Regions from separate parts of the Homo sapiens genome. Here region 2 is linked to region 1. A link means that fine-mapping ties the variant in region 1 to the expression of a gene that starts in the linked region. Tissue or cell type: whole blood. Region 1 holds a variant in brackets; the other region holds the start of a gene. All regions are shown on one strand. Distances are from middle to middle.

Region 1 (11,076 bases):
CAGTTCCTGAAAAAGTTAATAGAATGACCCTCTGACCCAGCAATTTCACTTCTGCACGTGCTATAAAGAACTGAAAGCAGGGACTCGAACAGATATTTGCACACCCGTGATTAGAGCAGCACTACCCACAACAGCCAGGTGGCAGAATCAGCCCGAGAGGTGGTGAGCAGATAAAGCCATGAACAAAACAAGTCGGTCCACACAGCGGGATGTTGTTCCACCTTAAAAAAGAAGGGCACGGCCAGGCGCGGTGGCTCATCCCTGTAACCCCAGCACTTTGGGAGGCTGAGATGGGCAGATTACCAGGAGTTCGAGACCAGCCTGGCCAACATGGTGAAACCCCGTCTCTACCAAAAATACAAAAATTACCTGGGTATGGTGGCGGGGGCCTGTAATCCCAGCTACTCGGGAGGCTGAGGCAGGAGAATCGCTTGAACCCGGGAGGCAGAGGCTGCAGTGAGCCGAGATCTCACCACTGCACCCCAGCCTGGGCGACAGGGCAAGACTCCATCTCAAACAAAAGACATTCACCTTCCTGAGCCTCGGTTTGCTCATCTGTAAGATGGGGATGAGTAGATGGAAAATGAAAGGAGAAACATCTGGAAAGACTGTGGGGCCAGCCAGAACCTTCCTAGTAAGGAAATTGAAAGGTGCATTTGCAGCTGAGCCTGTGAGATTTTGACTAAACAGGCAGAGGGAGTTCCCAGGACCCAGGAAGTCAACCACACACAACCACCATGCTCCGTTTTCCAGGGCCTTGGACAAATGCCTCAACACTAGGCCCGTTTCCAGGGCCTTGGACAAATGCCTCAACACTAGCCATTCTCGCTCCAGCCCAGGTGCAGTCAACTGTGGGTGATGTCACCTGCGGCCCTCGTCCCCAGCCCTGCTGCCCCGGGATCCAGGGTGGCCATGGAGATACATGATGCTGGTCCCAGGGTTGAAGTCGCCACAGGGGTACAAAGACAGCTCCAAAACAAGTCTAGGGCGGTGCTTACCCCTAGTGCCATTTCTGTAAGTGTGAACATGTGCAAAGTGATGCCACACGCAGCTTCAGGTGCGTGCATGAGTGGTGACAGTGTGACGATATTCCTGGAAAGACAAACATCCCATTCAGGGTTTACTGAAGGCTCAGCTTAAGTCCCTCGCCCTGGTAAGGGCAGGAACACACCAGGTCTCTTGCAGAGGAGTGCAGTTTCACAGCTGGTGGGTTTTCCAAAAATATCTTCAAGAGTTTGACAAACAGTGCCAGCTTGGACTGCACCATCCCCACATCCAAAACGCACTCCCCGTTTCCCTCAACCTCCCTGCTCATCCTGTAAGTTTCCCACAGAAATGGTGGCCTCGTCGGCCCTGCGGGGTGCAGGGGTAAGCAGCACACCATCTCCAGGCCTGGCTCGGGTCCAGAGGACACGGATGCACATTGCCCCTTGATTCATGCTGAGATTCCCATGTTTAAGCAAACAGCTGCTGATGAGAAGGTTCAGAGGCCATGGAAGAGGAGACTGCGGAGAGGCCACAGGAGGAGGGAGAATCGTGGCCGTCTCTGCTCCTGCAGGCACTGCTGTGCGGCTTTGTCCTCCCAAGGAACCATCCGTGCAATAGAGGGAAACACTCCACTGTCCCTCCAACCCAGCTCCGAGAAATCACGACTCCTCCTGACACCCACCAAGACATGAGACACGACTGACACACAGACATGTGCACACACCCCAACACCAGGACACGCAGGCACACACGTGCTCAGACACCAACACCAGGACACGCAGACACACGTGTGCTCAGACACCAACACCAGGACACGCAGGCACACGTGTGCTCAGACACCAACACCAGGACACGCAGGCACACGTGTGCTCAGACACCAACACCAGGACACGCAGGCACACACGTGGTCAGACACCAACACCAGTACACGCAGGCACACGTGTGCTCAGACACCAACACCAGGACACGCAGGCACACATATGCTCAGACACCACCAGGACACGCAGACACACGTGTGCTCAGACACCAACACCAGGACACGCAGGCACACATGTGCTCAGACACCAACACCAGGACACGCAGGCACACACGTGCTCAGACACCAACACCAGGACACGCAGGCACACGTGTGCTCAGACACCAACACCAGGACACGCAGGCACACGTGTGCTCAGACACCAACACCAGGACACGCAGGCACACACGTGCTCAGACACCAACACCAGGACACGCAGGCACACATATGCTCAAACAGCAGGACACGCAGGCACACATATGCTCAAACAGCAGGACACGCAGGCACACATGTGCTCAGACACCAACACCAGGACACACAGACGTGCACACATACCACCAGGACACACACACATGTACTCACACACCACCAGGACACACATGTGCACACACACCAACAGCAGGACACACACACGTGCTCACACACTCCAACACCAGGACACACATGCAGACACACGTGTGTCTACAGCCAGTGTTTCCCAGCCCAGAGCTGGCTGCACAGAGCCACACCCAGCCACAGTGAGGCCGCTGCAGTCCCGGGTTTTCACCCCCTCAAGCTCACCCTGCCCCTACTCCAAGGATTCATGCCCCCATCACAGGCGGGGCCACCTGTGCCCTCTTCCCAGAGCACTCGAGGCCAGGCACGATCCGGAGCCACTTCCTGCGTAGCCCCCTCCATCTGTGCCCCGAGAAACCAAGGACTCCGAAGGACAAGGATCAGACCACGAATGACAAAGAACCTTGGCCCAGAGAGCCAGGACTCCATCCCTGACTGCCTGCCTCCCCACCTTGTTTCCTTACAGCTCAGCACCTGCCAGGGACGTCAAATACACCGCACCCAGCCCCAGGGGGTCCCCACTGCTAGAAGACCACCTTCAGCTCCAGCTACACCTTCCCTTCCCGTTGTCCACACCTTCCCCCTCCTCCTCAACCTGCCTGGACGTCCAGACCCCCCGAGCAGGCACTGAATGACCCCGTTCCCCTCCGGGTGGTCCCCACTCATGTCCATGGCCTCATCCTGGACTTGGCAAACAGGGCCCGCCCCAGGACTTCGCACGGCTGTCCTTGGGCCACACATCTGGGCGATTCGGGGCCGGGGCTCCTCTTCCTGGACATGGCCTCTGCAGGTCAGGCCCTCCCTGCTCGCCCAGGTGCGTCATCAGAACCCTTGGTCTGGCTGGCGGAGAAGACAGCACAAGCGCCTGGATCTGCCCCTCCCCCGGCACCAGCTCCCCGGGGCCTGGCGCACTGTGAGGAGAATCATGGATGTCGGCGCCAGCGCTGTGGAAGACACCCTAAGGGGGTCCAGTGAGCTGTGGCAGAAGGAGCAGTCTCTCTTGCCGGGCTGGTTCCTGGGCTCCTGGTTCCTGAGTGACCCTGGAGCAGGGATAGCCGCCGGCACCCGCCCCTCCTCTTCTCAGAAGTGGTCACGCTGTGTCCAGAGTTGGTTCCTTCCAGTGGGTTCTTGGTTTATGCTGACTTCAAGAATGAAGTCCCAGATCTTTGCAGTGTTACAGCTCTTAAACGTGGCACGGACCCAAAGAGTGAGCAGCAGCAAGATTTATTGCAAAAGGGGAAAAGCGGAAAAAAACACAAACCTTCCACATCATTGAAATGAACCCCAGGGCACCACCCACTGCCGGCGGGGTGGGGCAGGGCAGGGCGGCTTTTATTCCCTTATTTGACCCCACCCACATCCTGCTGATTGGTCCATTTTACAGAACACTGATTGGTTCATTTTACAGAGTGCTGATTGCTCCATTTTTACAGAGTGCTGATTGGTGCATTTACAAACCTTTAGCTACACACAGAGCTGCTCATTGGTGTGTTTACAATCCTTTAGCTAGACAGAAAAGTTCTACAAGTCCCCACCCTACCCAGAGGCCCAGCGGGCTTCACCTCTCAACCTCATAGGGCCTCCTCCTCTGTGTGCCTCTCTCCTCGTCTGTTTCTGATTTGCCAGTGGGCTTAGAGCCCGCTCACATAAACTGGGGCGACTTCAGCTGGAGATCTTTACCCCACATGCAAAGATTCTTTTCCAAATAAGGTCATATTCTCGGGTTCCAGGAATCAGGACATAGATGTAGCTCTTTGGAGGCCACCGTTTAGTTTACTACAAACCTTGAAACCAAAACAGGATCAAGGTCCAAACTTAGAAGGACTTGGGCTCCAGAGAGAGGCCCAGGAAGCTAAGCCCCACTGCCCGACACAGCCCTGTGTGCACAGTGGGAGCCCCAGGGTGTCTGTTCAACTGCAACACACAGCTTTCTACCAGGTCCTTAACACATGCTGGGTCCTAACATGTGCCCTGAGGTGAGCCGGGGATACTCGACTCCAGGGCACTGGCCAGAAGCCTTGGACCTGCACCCACCACCCAGGCCTCTGAAAGGAGAGCAAGCTGAAGTCTTGACTTTGAAACAGCTGCAGGGGTCGCCCCTCACCCAAGCTTGGGGTGGGGGGGGGGCTCTGGGCGGCAGCAGGTGCACTTTGGGAGCCTCCGATGGTCCCCACAGCTGGGCTCCCTCCTCATCCCCATGGGCGTAGCCCACCAGGTGGCTGCTGAGTCCTCATGGTCCGTAGGCAAGAGGAAGGGGGAAAGTGTGAGCCCTTGGCCTCCACGGCAGCCGGCTGGGATCCTGGCGGGGGACCCTCGCTGGTAACAGCATCTCCCCAGGACGTGCGGCCCCAGTGCCTGCACCCAAGCCCAGCCCTGGTGGGGAGCAGCCCCTGGAAGGCAGGAACCACTCCAGGCAAATGCAGCTGGTGCTCAGCTACATCCTCACGAGGGCCCTGGGCCCCAAACCAAGAGGCGGCTCAGCCTGACAGATGCGGTTCTGGGAGCTGGGGCGGTTGACACTGCCTGGGCCTTGCCGGCTTGGCCTTCTCTGAGGGGTGGTGTCCACACAGCAGCAATGGTGCCACATGCCGGAACCTGGAACCGAGGTTGCCTCGAGAACTGTTTGGGCAGTGGCCCTAGCGGGTGTGGGTGCCGGGAAACAGGAGGCAGAGTGGCCCCCATGTTCCTCTGTAGGCGTCCGCACAGCCTGCCTTCCCCGAGTGCACACGGCGAGCTTGCTTGACCCTGGGGTGGCCACGGCCCACTTTTGTGACCCACGTCCCTCCTCCCGGCAGGCCCCGTGTCTTTGGGGAAGGTGAGTAATTCTGAATCTGGTTCCCGAGCCCCACTTCCCAGTCTAGGGCCACTACGTCCCCACGGTTCTGGGACACTTGCTGAGACAAAGGCAGATTTTGTGAGTCAAAAGGGACTTTCCACATCTCCAAACGGCGTTTCCGGATGCATGGGCCTCAGGGCTCTGATCCCAAGAAGTGCCAAGAAGACCTCTGTGGTCACAGATGCGGACCAGGCCGGGACATGCTGGAAGGTGTCAGGACACGCCCGGCCTGCACCTCTGTCTCCCAGAGCATCCCAGGTCTCAGGGCATCAAACGCTCCGAGGTCGGTGACCAGGCACCACCGCCTTGGCCTCAACCAGCACCCCAGAGGCGCCGTCCTGCCCTCAGAAGGCCCCCCAGAAACGCTGTTTCCCATCGCTGGCTGGCTGTCTCGTACCAGCCGCTGCAGCCCCGGCCCACCTGCATGCAGGGAGCAGGGCCCCATGGGAACCCAGGCAGATCCCCCTCCTGAGAAAGGTGGCCCTGCCCCAGCCAGCACATCCCAGGCGATGAGGCATGTGATCCCCATGGCCCCTCGGGTGAATCCTGACCGCCAATCTGCACACACAGCCACACCTGCGTCTCCATCTCCCTCGGTTCTGTTCCCCCCCACCGGGTCTGGAAGACACTGGTAAGCAGGGGAGGAGGAAACAGGTGCAGCTCCAGCGAGGCGGTGCTCCCTGCTGGTGAGTGGGTGCCCCCTGCTGGTGAGGGGGGGTGCTCCCTGCTGGCTTCCCCTCCCCACAGCTGTCCCTGGAGGGAGGCGTCATTCTGTAAACAGGGAGATGGGGTTCAGGACGGTGCCAGCATGCCCAGCAATCCCGGAGTTCCCCGTGCTCAGGAACTCGCACCGCTGGCTCCACGCTCTCTACTCCAGTGGGACAAGAAAGCTCTGCTCACCAGGCAACGAGAGGCGCAAGGGCGGAGCCCAGGGCCCCGGGGAGGGCTCAGGTGGCTGGCGGAGGGGGTGCAGGG[A/G]AGGGAGATTCACCCAGGAGGGCCATTGACAAGCACTGGCTGGGGAGGGATGTGGTCACTGCACCGGCATGACAGCTCGGAGTAGCTTCTAGGTGACCACGCCATGGGAGAATGTTCTGAGGGGAACCCCTTGGGAGGCTCAGCATGAGGCAGAGCCGTTGGGGGCTGCAGCCAAGGTGGGCAAGCTGGGCCTGGGCCAGTTCAGAGCAGCCAGGCTGAGGGGGAGGGTGGACACGGGACGTTTATACCAATACGCTCGGGCCGCTGTGGAAATGAGTGCAGCCAGGCTGTGCACACCACAGACACGTCTCGAAGCCTCGGGCCTGAAGTCCCAGGTCAGTGTGTGGCTGGGCTGCTCCCCTGAGCTGTAGGCGGGCACCGGTTCCGGCCTCTTCTTGGCTTGCAGGCCCCAGCTTCTCCCTGTGTCTCTGTATCGTCCCTGCTCTGTGAGTGTCTATTTCTGTGTCCAAATTCCCCCTTTTAATAAGGACACCCGTTATATTGAATTAGGATGCACCCCTGTGAGCTGTCACTTGATGACCTCTGCAAACAGCTCCCTCCCAATACCATCACATTCTCAAGTGCTAGGCAGTAGGACCCCCAGTCCTCTCCCAGTCCTAATGGAGAGATGTCACTGAGCCTGTAACTTGGCTGTCCCAGCCGTCCCTGCTGCCACGGGCACCACAGCCGCCATGGGCACCAGAGCCGCCACGGGCACCACAGCTGTCCCTGCCTCCCTCTCTGTGCTCTCCCCTGGCTTGTTTTCTGTATCTCCTGGGATGGAGGCTCCCTGGGGACTGTCTTCCCCACTGTGTCCTCAGCACCCAGACCTCACTGGGACAGCAGCCACTAAGCTTGTGTGGTCACTGAAGTTTATATTTAAGTTAAAATTTTTTTTAAAAAATGAAGAATCCAGGTCCTCAGCCACAGCAGCTACAGCTCAAGTGCCGATAGCCACATGTGGCCGGTGGCTGCTGCATAGGACAGCGTGGACAAGGAATAACTCCGTTGGTGCAGAGAGGCCACTGGACACTCAGGCAGAGACAAGAGGGTTCGCCGGGACAGATCAACAGATGAACAAATTCAGAACAAAATGCTTAGTGAGGGAGAAGTGAACTTTCATTTTGCCCAAGTCACCATTATCATGGGTGCTGCTGGCAGGATCAGACCTGGTCATGTGGAGTCTGAAGTGCTCCCAGCCACCAACTGTGGCTGTTGCTTAGAGATACCCCTCTTCCCTGCAGCCCTGCAGGACTTCCCGGGGCTTCCTGGCCTCCACCTTTGCTTCTGGTGCTAGAGGCGGGGCAGGTGGCGTCAGGGTGGCCACTCCCCTCCCCAGAGCTGCACTGGGCCGCAGTCAGTTCACCCGGCCACCCCTGGCAGCATCTCTGGGCCCCAGACAGGGCCCCTCCATACAGAGCCCAGACGCTCCACAGGGCAGGGGCAGCCCAGCCCTATAAGCCCTGGTGCCCCCATAATCAGGAGGAAGAAAACCTCCCCCGTCTCCTGTCCCCTCTCTCCCCTCTCCCCTCCCCCCTCGCCCCTCCCGTCTCCCCTCTCCCCTCTCTCCTCTCCCCTCTCCCCTCTTCCCTCTCCCCTCTCCCCTCCACCCTCTCCTGTCTCCCCTCTCCCTTCTCCCCTTTCCCCTCTCCCCTCCTCACTCTCTCATCTTCGCTGTCCCCTCCCCTCTCTGCCCTCCACTCCCCCCTCCCCTCCCCCTCCCCTTTCCCCTCCCCACTCCCCTCTCTCCCCTCTCCCCTCTCTTCCCTGTTCTCTGCTTCTCTGTGTGTGTCTCTCTCTCTGTCTCTCTTTCTGTCTCTGTCCATCTGTCTCTGTCTGTTTTTCTGTCTCTGTGTCTCTGTCTCTCGCTGTCTCTGTCTGGCTGTCTCTGTCTCCCTGTCTCTCTGTCTCTGTCTCTGTGTCTCTCTCTGTCCCCCTCCCCTCTTCCTGAGCCACTGCCCAGAACTCCAGGCAGGAGGTGCTCACGGCCCTCCCCACATCTTCCCCCTAGAATACCCGTGACCATCAGCTGCCCCCCCCATACACACCCCTCCCCTCCAATCCCAAACTCACTCAGAGCCCCTGTTCTTTGGGCAACGTGCTCAGAACTCAGGGGAGGTAAGGGGGAGTAGGTCAGCAGAAGAGGAAATGGACTTTCCTGGCCCATTCTCCATCCTGGGAGGGCACTGGGCCCTGGGCCCCAGGCCCCGGGCCCCGGTATTCATGGTAACGGGGGCTGAGAGGCGGCCAAAGAAGGCTTGTTCCCGTGCCGGGCACCACAGAGCTTACGGCTCCATCTGTGACACGGGCCTTCCTTCCCTGAGGGCCCCAACACAGCCTCCTGGGCAACATGCCCCTCCATCCGCAGGGTCAGAAGCCGCAGCTCAAGGATCACCTGCGGAAGGTGGCATTTCCCAAGACCGGAGCTTCCCGACATCCCGCCACCTCCCGCAGCGCTGGTGCCAGTCCTGTCGGATAAGGGGCAAGTGTAAGACCGGCCTCATCAGCTCCAGCAATTGTAACAAAGCGCCATGGGCGGGGGCTTCAACACTAGAAATTGTTCCCTCGCAGCCTGGGGGCTGGAAGTCCCAGACCAAGGGGCTGCTGGGCGGTTTCTCCCAAGGCCTATTCATGGCCCGCAGACGGTGGCTTCTCCTGTGTCCTCCCACGGCCGCTCCTCTGCACACACGCATCCCTGGTGTCGCTTTCTCTTCTTACAAGGACACGTCCTATTGGGTCAGGGCCTTCCTCACAACCTCATTTAACCTTAAGTCCCTCCCTCAAGGTCCTAGCTCCAGATACAGTCCCGTTGGGGCTGGGCCTCAGCTGCGAATCTGGGGGCACGACTCAGTCGGCAGCTGTCTGTGTCCTGCATGCGCCTCCACTGACCTTCCCAGGGTTCTCCCTGTGTCCTGGTGCTGCTTCTTCACCCAGAGCGCTGCCACCCACTGCTGAGCTTCAGACATGTGACCTGCCCAGTCCCCTCTGCAAGCCCTGCACCTTCCTCAGTACCAACCAGCAAACCCGTGGCTGCACCGGGGCCAGCAGACACTCTCGGGCAGAGTGCTGGGCACCCTGGCCTCCTGGGCACCCTGGCGCTTGGCACCCTGGCCTCCTGGGCACCCTGGCGCTGGGAAACCTGGCCTCCTGGGCACCCTGGCGCTGGGAAACCTGGCCTCCTGGGCACCCTGGCGCTGGGAAACCTGGCCTCTTGGGCACCCTGCCCTCCTACCCCTGGCTGGCTCGGGCGGCTGTCACCAGTGTGTTCTAAGACTGCAGCCCAGAACCAAGAAATAGGGAGGGGGCGAACAGCCCTGCAGGGAGGGGCACACCCGCCAACCTCAGAGAGGGGACCTGGACGCACCCACCACCCTCAGGGAGAGGACGTGGACGCACCCACCAACCTCAGGGAGGGGACCTGGACGCACCCGCCAACCTCAGGGAGGGGAAGTTGGCCGGCGCAGCGCCGGGTGGCGGGAGAGGATGGTGTCTGGGGCTTACGCCATGCCCAAGCTCCCACAAGGCAGGGGCCCACGTCCCGGGCTCCACGCCAGGGCCTTGCTCTGCCAGGGCAGCTCAGGGCAGCTCCGACAAGGAGTGGCCCCTTTGAACGAGATCCTGGAGAGTCAGGGTTTTCACTCCAGCTTTAAACCAGTTGCTCCCAGGCCGCCGCCACTGCCCCCACCCACCTGTTCTTGGTCCCAGCATCATCATGACAATTTGGGGGCAGGAATTCAACTGTGGAACGGGAGGAGCCCTCAGCTCCGGGTCACGCTGGGTGGAGGGCACGGTGAGGTCACGCTGGGTCATGGTGAGCTGGTGAGGCAGGCAGCCTGGTGGGCACCCGCCTTGAAAATGACCCCTCAAACCAGCGGACCGCACCACACTTTACAATTGAGTACAGCTATTTATCCATTAACACCTGTACCACTTCCAGACCAACAGATCACCAGGCTGCAGTGGGGACATGTGAGAAAATTACAGGCAAGGAAGCAAAGACTAGAACCAGGTGTGTCTCTGAGTTCCAGCCCTGCTGAAATGCCCGTCTGAATAAACAGGGGCCACTGCCATCCCGGCTGCGCATGCACAGGCCTCCGAGCGGCAGAAAGCAGGGATGACACCAATGTGGCTTTAAACCAGTGTTCAATTCCCATGGCTGATTCGGAACGTCCTGAGGCAAAACGTGAAGTTTACTGCATCCGAGGAAGGAAGTGCAGCACCCACAGCAGCAGCCAGCACCACTGGACCAACCGGGCCGGGGCTGGGGAAGGAGCATGTGCTGTCGGCACGGCCAGGCCGGGCCTGGAGGGCTGGAGAGAGCCTGCGTGGGACAGCAGCTGGAGGCCGCAGGGGGCCCAGGGATCACCCCTTCTTCAAAGGGAACCTGGCCGAGAACTCGGCCCTCACACTTGGGTGTGGGGTCTCTGGAGACAGGACAGTGAGTGGCCACAAGGGCCAGGCAGGGGCCGCTGCCAGTGGGCCTGGAAGACCAGCGAGGGCTCATGTCCATCACACGGTCTGTGCAGTAAATGATGGCCGGTTCCGCAGACCCCCTCCCTGTGGGGACACAGCTGCTGGGGTGGTCACCCCTCCCCCTAATTCCCAGCTGAGGTGCCCCTGCAGAAGCCCCGAGTGCCCAGCGGGGTAATTGCGGCCAGGTGCTTGCTCTTGGAGCACTGAGGAGCCATCGGAGGCTGCAGGCTGCCTAGCGGCCAGGCTTGCTGCCCCTTCCTGGAATCTGCCCACAGGAAGTCAGAGGCTGCCAGCCCCTTCACTGACCTTTCCAGGACCAGCCAGGAAGGGCTCACAAAGGATGTTATTTGAAACAGGAAGGTCCCTGGACAAAAATATCTCTTCCAAGAGGCCTGAAAGAGCACCTTGCAGAGAGTAATTTAGATTAAACAGGACCCCCTCCCTGGAGAGCCTG
Region 2 (8,038 bases), 26 kb before region 1:
TCGCCGCACCTCTGTGGGCTGAAGATCAGGATGTGATCAAGTGGATTCCGAAGGGCAGCTGCGTGCCCGTTACAGCCTGGCAGTGGCTGGGCACCGGGCCCTTTCTGTGGAAGTAGGAAGCGGGTCCAGCACAAAAGCGCCAGGTGCAAGTTCTCTGCCAGTTCGGAGAAATCTCCCAAGTTCAGCTCACACCACAGGGCCACCCTCAAAAGTGTCCAGAAGCCCACACCTGGCCCATGCCCTCCCGTTCTCAATTTCATGAAGGCCAGGGAGCCTCCTGACACGCCCGTAGCAGGACCTGAGTGCGCGGGCAGCGACATGGGCAGCGCTCAGCCAGGGCCACTTCCTGCTGGGCAGACACAGGCCCAGGGCACTGCTCAACAGCCTTGAGAGTAGAAGAGACAAGAAAACGAACAAGCACAAAATTCTCTCTGGCTTAAAAGCAAATGACACTTACAGTCTAAAGACAAAAGTGAACCTGATCAGCCTTGAGAAGGGGCCGGCCAGACAAGAAGAGGCTCCTTCTGAGTGCGTTCCGGGGGCGTTGCTACAAAGCTCACACAGAAAGACCACGCCAGGGCCCACACTCCTTGGTGCTTCCTGCCTCCACGGTGGTGACTGGAGAGAAGGGGCTTGGACTCACGGACCCTGCTTAGTTAGCACTTCACCTGGTGTTGAGCCTGGCGCCCCGCCTGACCACTTCCAAGATCTGGGCTGGCCTCTGTGCAGAGGAAGCTGAGACCACTCTTCGCCCGCCACGGGGACCCTGATGACGCACCCCAGGCCACCAGGCCACTGCCTTCACGGTGGGTCCCCACCCGTGTCTCCGGGTTCCTAAACTGCCTGGAGGGGATGTCTGGCCTTTCCTGCCCGGGATGGTGGGTTAGGAAGGATCTGGGGTCTGGCACCGGACTTGTCCCTGGACAGACCTCACCTTCCTTCCACTGCCAGGGAGCAGGGAGGCTGCCACCCACTGCATGAGACCCGGGCACATGCGGGCACTGCCAGCACGCGGGGTGGGGGCTGGACTGAGTCCGGACACCTTCTCAGAGACTCCGGATGGAAGGGCCTAAGAGCCTCCGGTTTCTAGAGGGGGCTGAGATCCGGGGAGTAACTGGGATTTGGAGCCAGGATGGAGGGAACAGGGCTGGGGGATTCTCTCCCCAGCCCCGTCCCCACCCCCTAGAGAAAGTGAAAGTGCTAGAAACCTCCAGATTCCCGGAACGGGGGACGGGAACACGGAGGACGCGGCCTGAGCAAGGCCCCGGTGGCTGCCCCCTCCCCAGCCAGGGCGCAGTCCTTCCTGTTCCGCCTCTGGGGGGTGGGCGGCTCCTCCAGGGTCAGGCGGGGGCAGGACGGGCCGGCCCGGGCTAGTGTTACCGGACGGCCGCGGCGCAGGGGAAGGGAGAGCGCGGGGGACGCAGGACGCCCCGGCTCCCGAACCGCCCGGGTCTCCACCGCCACCCCTGTCCCACTAGGGACCACCCAGGGGCCCGGGCTCCCTCCGGAGGCGCGCTCCAGCCCCTCCCCGTTTCCATGGCTACCAGCAGCGGCGTCCACACCTCTGCCCCCGGTCCCACCCGAGCTGACCGTACCGGGAGCCCTGGCAGGGCCCCTCGCCCCCTAGCGCTGCCACTAACGTGGGGTGGGGGCCCTCGTGGGGGACCGAGAACAGGCGGTGGGGGCGCGGGAAGGGGCGCCTCCTGTACCCCCGGCCCCGCCGCCCGCCTCCGCTCCCGGATGCCGGGCCCAGACCCGCGCTCGGGGCGCTCGGCCTTTGTCCGGCCAGGTGCGGCCGCGCTCACCCGGGCTGGGGCGCTCGGGCTCGGGGCCCTCGGGGGTGCCCGGAGCCTCCGTCCGCTCGGCAGTCTCGTCCCCGCCGCCGTCGGCGTGAGCCTCCACGGGCACCACGGTGAAGTTGGTGGGCATGGCCGCCTGCAGCCGACAGTCCCCGTCCCGGCCCGGCCCGCGCTGCGCCGCTCCCGCCGACGCCACGGGACTTGGAGGCAGGGGCGGGGTCCGACCGAGCCGCCCCGCCCCGCCCGGGCCACGTGACTTCACCTGCTTGCCCCGCGGCCCCACGAAAAGTTGGCCCGCGGCGACTTCCTGCAGGGACCCCAACCCAGGCTGCGTCTGTCTGACCGCCGCGACCCGGGACGCGGGGCTTTCGCTGCCTGCGCTCCCGACCATCGCAGAGCCCGCGAATCCCCGCTCAGTCTCCTGCACCCCCTCCTGCTCCAGCCCCCTGCCCCTCCTGCTGGAACTCCCCGCCCTCCCCGCCCTCCCCGGCCCCCTCCCCGCCTCCCCTCTTGTCCCCTTCCCCGACCCCCCACTCCTGCTCCAGCCCCCTGCCCCTCCTGCACGCCCTTCTGCTGGAACCCCTCACCCCTCCTGCACCCCCCCACCCTTCCTGCACCCCCTCCTGCTGGGCCCCCCTGCCCCTATGAACCCCCTCCTGCTGGAACCCCTGCCCTTTCTGCACCCCCTCCTGCTGGGCCCCTCCTCCTTCTGCGCCCCCTCCCGCACCCCCTCCTGTTTGCCCCCCATTTCCTGCTCCAGCCCCCTACCCCTCCTTCTTCCCCCTCCTGTTCCCCCCTGCCATCCTCCAGCACCCACCTCCCACACAGTCCGCCCACCCACTCCAGGCTGTCAACACCCGCTCAGACCCTGGGCTCCTAGCCTGGCTCCTGGCTAGCCCAACCTGGCTGCAAAGGCAACTCCAGTGGAAGGAGCCTTGGATAGCCTGGGGGTGGGGTACTCCGGAGCTTGGTCCAGCTCCAGTTTAGGGACCTAACCCAGTAGAGGGAGTCCCCCCCCCCACCCATGACAAATACCACCCACGAAGACCCCAGTCTCCTCCACACCTGCCCCAGGAGTGCCCCGCGGCCCCTGCCCTAGAACCCTCCCTTCCCTCCTTGGGAAATGTTCCAGAAGCTCACAGGGTGATGCAGGGAAGGTGGAGTTCCAGAACCCACCAGGCAGACACCAGGATACCACCGGCCAGCACCTGGCACATTTCTCAACAAATGACTCATGAAAAACGGAACAATCAGATGTCCGTCAATGGGGAATTGGGCTAAAATGCTATGGCACACAGGTGCAATGAGTCAGCCTTTATTCCTAATCACCCACAACTGCTGTACGACAACAAAGCAGAAACACAGGTGGTGTGGGCAAACACGGCCACAGCCTCTTGTCACGTGGAAAATGGGTATGGCCTGGCCATGTTTTAGCCGCTTGCCTGTCTAATCCTAAAAGGCAGCTGGAGGGGAGTGATGGCCTCCGGGCTGTGGGATCACCGGGCTCTGTGGGTTCAAGGAACGCAAGCCCAACCTCTCCAGCCATTTCCAGTAAAGCCAGTCATGCCCTGGGGTGGCCTAGGGTTCTACCCCTTTGCCCCATGGACTCTTCTGGGCAGAAGCTGTAGGCCTGGGACCCTCCTGGAACGTCGCCCATCCAGCACCAGCCCTTGCAGAGGTGGGGGTTCCTCTGGCCTGGGTGTCTGGAGCTGTGCCTGCTCCACACTCTCACCCCACCTCCCACCAAAGGGAGCTCAGGGCTGTGGATGGTGCTAGGTCAGCTGCCTCCCTGGGTCAGTGGGTTGGAAGGTAGGAAACCATCACCTCCCCAGAAGATAAAATAGTTCCCAGGCATCCTTATGAGGAGGGCTGGCTTTGCTAAAAAGATCCAGGGGGTGGGAACAGAAGTGCCCAATGGGGTCAATTATAGGGTTCACACTTAGGGTGCTGGGTAAACCCTCTCCTCAGTCACCCCAGCAGGGGCTTCTGTACATTCAACCCTGGTTGCCACCCAGCGCTATTCCCGAGGGTTGGACAGAGCTCAGGGTGGGCACGAGGCCTTCCCAAGTGATGCCAGCAGGAGCAACAGATGTGCAGGGCTCCCGTCGCACATCCAAGCTCTGCTTCACACCCCAGGACCCCAGGGCCGGCTGCCCGCCATGTGCTGGCTGTGGACCTTCAGAGGAGCTGGTTTGGAGGGTCTGTGGCCAGGGCCAGCTCCCGGACTCAGGACTCATCAGCTTCATTTTACAGAGGAGGAAACTGAGGCCCAGGAGTTTAGGGTCCTGTGGCAGCTCCGAGGGTGGTCTTCTCTGTGATTACAAAATCTTGACTAGGACCAGGGGCCATGGCTGAAGCACCTGGGTGGGTGCCCAGCCCTGCCAGGCAGAAGGCAGGTGGCTTCTCTTGTTTAAATCTTAGATCTTACTTGTGGGAGACCTCGGGTGGGGGGTGAGGTCTGCTGCCTTTTGCATTCTAATCAGGTGAGTCACGACAGGGATCAGCACCCTGTAAGCACCTGCGGGTCAAGACAGAGACCCTTGCCGGAGCCCAGAAGCCGCTGCAGGCCCCTCCCATCCCATCAGTAGCCCATCCCTAGGGGTCTGGTGGCCCCTCCCTTCGCTCTGTGGGTTTCCGTGTCCACGTATATCCTCCCACACGGCAGCCTGGGGTTAAATGTGCGTTGTGTGACTTTCAGTGCTCTCTTCCTACCCACCTCCATCCCTCTGTCCTTTTCTGTACCCGGCACCTGTTGTAGGAAGTGGCCCTCGGACACGTGGAGGTACCCGAGGCCTGGGTTGGAGCTGCATCTTTCGGTGCAGGCCTCTGCGTCTCCTGGAAGTGGGCACCTGGAGCCAGGGGACTGCTGGGATCCGGGTCCAGTCCCCTGGCAAGGCCGGGGGCTCGCAGAGGGAGCCACGCACTGTCTGGTGGTAGCTCCTCCGTCCGCAGTCGTTGGTGCTTGATGTCTGAATCGACAGATTCATGGAGCAAAATGGTGATTTTCCAGTGCGTGGTGGCTTCGTCATGAATTCACTGGAGGGAGAGGCTCATCTTGTCCGTCTGGCCATCTGGATAATGGTGCCCACAGGAAAGGCAGGGCAAGGGTGCCTCTCCCTCATTTGTCAGTTTCCACAACGGTGAATTGGTTCCCGACAATCTCCCAAGTATATTTGTACATCGCTGATGAAACACATTGGTGGGTCTCAGTCGATCACCATTAGTGCCCTTTCCAAGCATCGGTGTCCAGCTTTGCCCAGGGGGCCTCTTCAAATGCAATCTCGCATCCTTATGATGTGAGCCTGGTCATCTGCGATGGCCTCTTGGCCGTGTGCAGGGCACAGCCAGGGGAACCCTGGGATTTAGTGCGAAAGTGTAGCCGATGGTGGTTACATTCTGTGTGTAGATTCTCGAAACAGTCCCTGCTGCCTGCCACCCTGGGGTGGAGTTTCTAATGGATTAGGACGGACACCCAATGCCAGCTTCCAAGCCAGGAGGCCGCTCGTGCCCACGGCTTGGAATCAGGGCTGTGGCCTGGGAGGGCTCTCACCAGACGCAGGCTGCCTCCAGGTATCTGTGTGCCTCTGCCCACGGAGCTTCTCCCCAGGTCCGCGGGTCCCCCCAGTCCACTTCTGCTTTCCTGTTAGGGTGGGGGGCTCATCTCCTGGTGCGCCATCTGCATCCTTCTGGGCTGGGAACCTGCTGTCGGGTATCAGGCAGGGCGCACCTCCAGGGCTGAAGGATGCAGGTGGGGCTGGCAGGCAGAGTGTCCGTGGAGAGCTCCGTGTCCAGGGAAGGGGACACCTGGAGGAGGCCGGCCCTGGAGGCCCCACACTCCTTCTCACCAGAAAGCCACCCGCCTTCTGCCTGGCAGGGCCGGGCACCCACCCAGGTTCTTGCCTGTTGGCCCAGCACCCATGGTGAGTGGGGGAGAGAGCGAATAGGGCAGAGCAGAAGAGAGAGGGGAGGAAGGAGAATCGGGGGAAGGGGGAGGGAAAGGAAAGAGGTGGGAAGGGAGGAGAGGGAAGGGAGGCCCCAGTTACCCAAGGCTAAAGTGATTTTTAAAAAACAAACCTTTTTTTTTTTAAGCGTGGTGAGCCTCTCCTGGCAGGGTGGGGTATGTGGACATCAGTGGAGGAAGCAGAGTCTCCGGCCACCTGTGGGACCCACACTCTCCCTGCCCAGGAGTCCCACCAGGGCCGAGAATTCTGCCCATGGCCAGGGTGGCCCTAAAGCCCCACATCCGCCACCACCTGTGGGGGCTCGAAGGGAGCTGTGGTAGGCAGGGATGACAGAAGACCCCAGCCACAGCCCCAGGCCCATGGCTGCATCTCCCCTGAAGAAGCAGCCCTGTCCCAAGGGTTCTGCAAACAATGCCAGGCTCTTCCCAGGCAGGCACCGCAAGCTGCCCCCCGCCCCGATCCCTGGCTTGCCCAGGGCGGGGCCTCTGGGCCTGGTGGATGGTGGGCCTGGCCTGGCGCTGGGGAGCCTGTCTGCACAGTGGCCAGGTACGTGGGGTTCTGAGCCTCCCCCGGGTCCTGTGCCTGCTGGGCAGGGGTACATCCCATGGAGCTGAATCTGGGAATAGAAGGGGCCTCCCCTCCCACAGAGCTCGTCTCAGACCATCTGTGTCTGAGACTGTAAGTGACGCCAACAGAAGGTCAAGCTTGAGCGACAAAGCTCTCAGTCCTGTAATTCACGGACACTGAGTCTTCGCTCAAGTTCCCTCTGGAAGATTCCGTGGATGAGTCCGACACACTCTTCCCCTCACTCAGGAGGCTCCAGGATTTTTAGACCACGTGTGTGGCTTTCCTTCTCTCAAAGTGTAACTCACATAATGTTACTCAGAATCTCACACGGACGCCCGTGAGTTGCAGACACAGGGAAGGTTCGCATCTCCTCTGAAGTCCAAGCTGCCCAGAAGCCCACCCACCCCCCGCCAGCTCTCGTTCCTGCTCCACAGGTGACTTCTTTCCCGTGAAGCTTGGGCAAATGTTTGCTGTCGGCTCAGGGGGAAAGGCCATGCCAGGGTCCAGATGGGCTCAAAACCTCCCAACCTGGCAGACACGCAGCCCTTCAGAAATGGAAGCAGAGCCCAGGACACGATGTGGCCAATCCTCTCTCAGACGTCATAAAGAGCTGGGTTTGGAAGACGAGGCCAACCCTCATGGATGCCGCCCCCGACCCCAGCAACACCATGAGATCAGGGATTTGCTGGCTCTGTCTCAGAGCCGCGGAGGGTCCTGCTCAAACCCCAGAGCCGTGGGGATGGGCTGGGGGGCTGGTGGGGAGCGTACTGCGAGGGGCCACTGAGCAGGCTGGGGTGAGCTGGGCCTGGCCTGCGGGGGTGGGGGTGCAGCCTTCGCTGGGGAGGCAGCCAGGGAAGGGGTTCCTACCAGCCCGAGATGGAGCAACGAAGCAACTAGTGAAGCCAAGTTTGCAAAATTATCACCGTTGGTGGAAGGGTTCCGACCTGACTCCATCTTGGTTCTGACCTCCAAGCTGTCCTTGTTCCTTCCTGGGCGTAGGCTGAACTAACTTTGGGAGGAACTTAGTTTATAGTTAAAATAAACCTCCTTCTTGCCTGAGGGCTAGACTGCCTTTGTAGGATTAACAAATTAGCCACAAGATTAAAGAAATTGTGGTTTAGGAGTCATGCAGCTGGAGGCTACAAGATTCTGACCCTCCCTAAACTGCTCCTAAAATCCATGCTTGAGATGTTTTGCGGATCCTTGTTGCGCTAGATGGATCAGCTGGCACCACTCAGACCAATAGACTGGCTCATCTGATCTTGTGACCCCCACCAGGAACAGACTCCGCACAAAAGGACAGCTTCAATTCCCTATGAGTTCATCTCTGACCTGACCAATCAGCACTCCTGGCTCACTGGCTTCCTCACCCACTAAGCTGTCCTTAAAAACTGATCCCTGCCGGGCGCGGTAGCTCACGCCTGTAGTCCCAGCACTTTAGAAGGCTGAGGTGGGTGGATCACGAGGTCAGGAGATCGAGACCATCCTGGCTAACACGGTGAAACCCCGTCTCTACTAAAAATACACACAAAAACATTAGCCGGTCATGGTGGCAGGTGCCTGAAGTCCCAGCTACTCGGGAGGCTGAGGCAGGAGAATGGCGTGAACCCGGGAGGCGGAGCTTGCAGTGAGCTGAGAGCACGCCACTGCACTCCAGCCTGGGGGATAGAGTGAGACTCTGTCTCAAAAAAAGAAAAAAAGAACTGATCC

Evidence for each region. PIP is the estimated chance that this variant, and not a neighbour inherited with it, causes the effect.
Region 2: SLC12A7 starts here. The variant in region 1 is fine-mapped to the expression of SLC12A7 in whole blood (INTERVAL, PIP above 0.99).

What each region holds. Positions count from the first base shown.
Region 1 is chr5:1,134,613-1,145,688 of GRCh38, forward strand. It overlaps a transcript of SLC12A7 not described here. Among named protein-coding and RNA genes, the nearest start is that of SLC12A7, 28 kb to the left of the region's middle. RefSeq lists enhancers at 2,558-3,090, 5,882-6,725. The variant A/G (reference allele first, on the strand shown) is at 6,150.
Region 2 is chr5:1,110,063-1,118,100 of GRCh38, forward strand. It overlaps SLC12A7 (solute carrier family 12 member 7), which reads right to left and starts at 2,001. Exons shown (of 24, transcript NM_006598.3): 1 at 1,806-2,001. The coding sequence starts at 1,929. RefSeq lists an enhancer at 7,354-7,887.